Homo sapiens: one gene and its partner. The protein of the gene in region 1 purifies or fractionates together with the protein of each later gene. This does not show direct contact. Each region holds a gene or a part of one and is shown on either strand. Other genes may lie near its edges.

Region 1 (2,185 bases):
TGATTATGGAACGTCTCTTCACCTTAACCCAAATCCAGACCCTTTTGTGGTTTCTATTTGTACCACTTTTCTCCCAGGCCTCAGTTCTGAAGCTTACCTTTCTTCTAAGGAATTGAAGCTCCCAGTGACCTGGAGGGAGGATTCCTGGAAACCAAACAATCAGTTTAGGTGCAGGTGGAGATGTTGAATATGTGTTACCAAGATACAGCACAGGTTCAGGGAAAAGAGTTCGCTACTCCAGGGGTTATTTAGAAGACACTTTCTCTGCCTCATCCTGCCCTCAAGCTTTAGTCAAGAAGTTATGGCCCCCAGTCCCTGACTTCTTACTTATCCCATTGAGGACTGCCTTTCTCTCTCTCAGTTCTGGCCTCTGCCCCCCAAAGTCAGCTCTCTAAAAGCAAGCATGTTTTAGACCACTCACTCTTTCCCTCTTTCTTCAGGAATGAATTGGGAAAGGCTGATGAGTAAAACATACCATCCTTTTCTATTTTCTTGATGCTGTTTACAACATAGTTTGGTGATATCCAGAGCTAATGTACATGCTTTCAAAAGCTAATCTGCCTGTTGATGGTAACTAGGTACAGCGACTTTAAATACAGTTGCTATAATCCTGAAAAGCCCCAGGAGCACATCAGGGAGCTGGGAAACACAGTTGCAGAGAACTCAGCTGTATGTTGCCCTCTGACCTTGGCCCAGACCTTCAGAGGCTCAGTCTGTTGAGTCTGTTGTGACTGTCTTATGAATCAATCTGTTGTGCCAACCCTTTCTGAGATTCAGAGAGGTCCAGCTAGAAAAAGTGGCAGTTTTAACCACCAACGTAGAAGCTTTTTTTTCCCCACAAGACCATTGTACTGCAATACTTGAGTATTTGTGTAGCAAACAGCCTCTTAGGTTGGAGAGTATTGATTTCAAATAGGAAGTTGGTAGACTAGGTGTGAGGATGAAATAATGACCTTGATTTTTGGGTGTGTATTGCAGAAGCCTCGTCGCTTTCAAGTCACATCATATATGCGATCTGGCCTAACCATGGAGATATTGGTTATCAGTTTGCAGATGAATACACAGTTCTATCCAACAGAAACTGTATCTTTCTGTTTGTCAGAAGTTCTCCGTTAGTTCCTGTATTAGTCAAGGTTTTCCAGAGAAACAGAATCAATATATATTGGGGCAGGGGGGCGGTGGTTATTATAAGGAATTGGCTCACGTGATTATGGAGGCGGTTAAATCCCAAGATCTGCAGGATAAGTCAGCAAGATGGAGTCCCATGAGAGCTGATGGTTTAGTTCCAGTCTGATGGCAGCAGGCTTGACGCCAAGGAAGAGATGATGTTTAATTCAAGTCCGAAGGCAAGGAAAAAGCTGATGGTCCTGTCCAAAGGCTATTAGGCAGGAAGAATTCTCTTAGGGCAGAGTTAGCTCTTTTGTTCTATTCAGGCCTTCAACTGATTCAGCAAGGCCCGCCCACATTTGGGAGGACAGTCTGCATTACTCAGTCTACTGATTTGAATGTTAATGTCATTGAGAAACACCCTCACAGGAACACTCAGAATAATGTTTGACCAAATAGCTGGGCATCTTGTGACCCAGTTAAGTGGATACATAAGATTAACTATCACAGTGACTCAGTGGAATTTTTTGTTTGCTTTTGTACAGTTTTAAAATAAAAGTTTGGTATTTGTGTTTTGGTATGCTGTTATTTTCATTGTGAATGAGGAGTTGTGGGGAAGGTAAGAGATTGGTTTCCAAAGAGCTTTGAGTCCCCCAAGGCAAGGTTTAGCCACCGTTCATACTAAAGCCATAGTTTTATTCCTGAGTCTGCTCTCTAGTATTTTATTTTATCAATTTATAAACAAATAGTGTTCATAAGGCACACATATTTCACTCAACCATATTCAGTTCCAAACATGCATTCCTGAATATCCCAATCTTAAAACTAACTCACATTGTCAGCTTGTGGAGGCAGAATACATGCATACATATACACATACATACATGAATATACATATAATATACACACACATATGCATACATACACATATACACATGTATACATGTATGTGTATATACATATCTGTACTACATAGGTGTATATATATGTATATGTATTTAGCATGTATGCACGTGTATATGTATACACATATATACATATGTATGTATAATACATATTCACACATGTATGCATGTAT
Region 2 (3,500 bases), on another chromosome or scaffold:
CTTATCTACATTATGTCCTGAGCAAACTATTTTTCTCTTGTGTCTTCAAATTACATGTGATTTTTTTCCCTTTATTCATTCACTCATTCAACAAACATTTAGTCAGTATCTTCTATGTACCAAGTACTATGTTCGGTGCTAGGAAAAACTGTTAGATAATTGTTTTTAATTAGAATTTCTTTTTAGTTTGTAAAAATTCTGTAGAAATGTGTTTCTCTCCATGAGTAATAGTGACATTCCTTAAAAAAAAAAAAAAGATGCCATATTTAGTAATCTAACCATTAGATCACTGCCAAAGGAGTCAGGAATTTGCTTCATTTTGTGCTCTTACCTTTGGGCAAAGTCAATGTGTTTCTCAGATTTGTAATCATCACAAGGTTCTGAATGTTCTTAGAAGTCTTTGTCTTTTGTTTTTAATTATCAGCAGCAAGTAAACCGGGCTCATAATTGAACAAATCATTCATAAAATAGAATAACAGTATTTTTTACTAGTAAAGATTGTAACATTTTTTATATCTTCCTTTTTTTTTTTTGAGTCAGGGTCTTGCTCTGTCAACCAAGGCTGGAGTGCAGTGGTGCGACCATGGCTCACTGCAGGCTTGACCTCCTGGGCTTGATTCATCCTCTCACCTCAGCCTTCCCAGCAGCTGGGACTACAGGCACATACCACCACGCCTGGCTAATTTTCACATTTCTTTTTTTTTTTTTTTTTTGGAAGAGAAAGGGTTTCATCACGTTGTCCGGGCTGGTTTCAAATGCCTGGGCTCAAGCAATCCTCCCACCTTGGTCTTCCAAAGCGCTGGGATTACAGGTGTGAACCAATGCACCTGGCAAAATTTTTATATCTTCTAATTTGCAAATTTTTAAAATCATAATTTTAAGGCAATATAGATAAAAACAAAGTAGGAAGTACTTTCATCCATTGCCAGTGACAGTCTAAGTTGACATAATCTTTCTTAAAAGCAATTTGGCAGTACTATGTACATCTAGACGTTTAAAAAGGTTCATTCATTTGGAATCAGTAATTCCCCTTCTAGGATTGTGTTCCCTTCCCCAAACAGAAATTTGGAAAAAAGATGTGTGTACAAATATGTCCAAACAATACTATTTGTAATAGTCCAAAAGGGAAAATAAATGCCCCTAAAATATGAGGATTAAATGATATATCTGAATGGTATTTTTATAATCACTAAAAATCATATTTTCAGATTATTCAAAAGGAAAACACCCAACAATATAGGAGCAAATATGCAGGTCACAAACTGATCCTGATGTTTAAAAATTATATCTGTACATAGACACATTAAAAGAAACATCAAAATGTTGATAGTTGTTACCTTTGGGGAAAAGGATCATGAGTGGTCTATAGTTTTTTATATGCCCTCAGTTTTCTATAATAAGTTTTTAAATAAAAATTTAAGTGTGATTCTTTCAGACTGTTCTGTCAGTTTCAAACTTGTAATGAATGTCCATTGTGTGCTCAGCACTAAACTATTTAAATTTACAAGCCCTTACATTATATTCCACTAAGAGAAAGTTACCTAACACTTCGACTCTAGCTATCACCATAATATTACTCTCAAAAGAGACTTTCTCCAAAATCTTGAAAGACGTTGAAAAGAATTCCAGTGAAACACGGTGTTTAACTCAATAACTAGGCTTGCTGCCCAAATTTTAATTAAAAAAAAAAATAAAGCCAAGAACATTTCTCTGCAAGGTGTTTCAGCAAGAATATACAGACTAAGGACTTTCAATGGTATTTTGGTAAACAGCCATTTAAACGTTAAAATTAAGAAAAGCATGTGTACCATGTACACATTCCTCTGCACCCCCTTTTCTCTCAGGTGGGCCTGACTGCCACTTCTGAAGATAAGAATCCAGCCAATGAGCACTGTTGAATGAAGTTCTGCCAAGCTGATGAAGGTCATTTGAAGTCTATGCTATATATTCATTCTTAGGGTACAGTGCCCCATCAGTACTTGTATTCACCACTGACTCTCTGCCAGAATCCCCATATAGCCAACCTGACTTCTGCTGCTATTCTGGAGTCCAACAGGCCACCAAGGTTCCAAGTTAGAGAATATACAACCCCTTCTTCTACCCACTTAAGTTCCCTACTTTCCTCCTAGCTACCCCAATTGTGTTGGGTTCATTACCCATCTTTCCTGCCCTCTTTATTGCCTTGGAAGTAAAAAACACTCTATGTCATTTCTAAGGCTAATGATCCCATTTGGACTTCTGAGTTCATCATGTCTATCTCTCATCCCACCTTCTTTTATATTTTCAATTTCTCCCTTTCCTGTGGCCTGCTTCTAAGGAGCTAACATCTCTATTCTTGGAAAAGAAAAACTAAATGAAGTTAAAAAAAGAAAAAAAGAAACCTTTATTTCCCTTTCAAATTCTCACAACATCTCCCCTTCTCCTTTCTTTCCCTGCTAAATTTATTGAAAACCTTCCACTCTCTCAACCTTTGTAACCTGTAGTTCCACTTCTATCACGTCACGGACTTCTACTGATTACTCCCAAATCTGTATTTCTAGCTTGGATATTTCTCCAAATCCTAACCCCCCATTTTCAACTTGTCTCAGCAAGTCCCCAAACCAAATTCCTCCAACATGGTTCTCCCACCTGCAACCCACAGCTCTTCTGCACCTCTAATTCTGTATCTAGATAGGAAAACTATGGGTGTTACCAAAGGCACACAATAGTCTTTAGGTTTTTCTGGTTAATGGTGATTGAAAACGGAGCTCTAAAATCACATAACTGAGTAAAAGATTTATGCAATAGTTTGGAAGTGCTAAGAGAAAACCTCCATTTACATCAGAAAATCACTGCCCCCAAAACCAAAGAAAATGTCTTAAACACTACATATGTTCCACACTGACATTTCACATTTTTAAAAAATTCATTCACTTTTTTGGCTTATTGAAATTTATTCTATTTTCCTAAAATTCTAGACCAATCCATGTAGGTCTTAAGGTATGAATGCTTAGGAAACTGGCTGTGTCCATGTAATGTATTTTCTACTGAACCTAGACCAGTGACATACCAACCTACATCACAAATGACTTTAATTTGAATACTGGGCCGGGCGCGGTGGCTCACACCTGTAATCCCAGCACTTTGGGAGGCCAACGTGGGTGGACCACCTGAGGTCTGGAGTTCAAGATCAGCCTGGCCAACATGGTGAAACCCTGTCTCTACTAAAAATATAAAAATTAGCCAGGCATAGTGGTACACGCCTATAGTCCCAGCTACTCAGAAGGCTGAGGCAGGAGAATCGCTCGAACCCAGGAGGCGGAGGTTGCCCTAAGCCAAGATTGTGCAACTGCACTCTAGCCTGGATGACAGAGCAGGACTCTGTCTTTAAAGAAAAAAAAAAATCTGAATATTGCAACCATTCAACCTCAGGGACTGTTAGTGCTGTGACTGTCTTTGTTAATGAAAATTGCAAATATAGCCCAGAATCCAGTAAATGAGTAGGCACAAAATTGTCATAA

What was found.
Region 2: the proteins of ERMAP (region 1) and FAM199X purify together in Homo sapiens (affinity purification with mass spectrometry; 2 studies listed by BioGRID and IntAct, with this or other methods). This does not show direct contact.

Annotation. Positions count from the first base shown.
Region 1 is NC_000001.11:42,843,307-42,845,491, forward strand, and holds the end of ERMAP (erythroid membrane-associated protein precursor), read left to right. Parts: 3' UTR 1-1,685; downstream 1,686-2,185. UniProt on the Homo sapiens protein: Possible role as a cell-adhesion or receptor molecule of erythroid cells.
Region 2 is NC_000023.11:104,169,453-104,172,952, reverse strand, and holds part of FAM199X (protein FAM199X), read right to left. Parts: intron 1-3,500.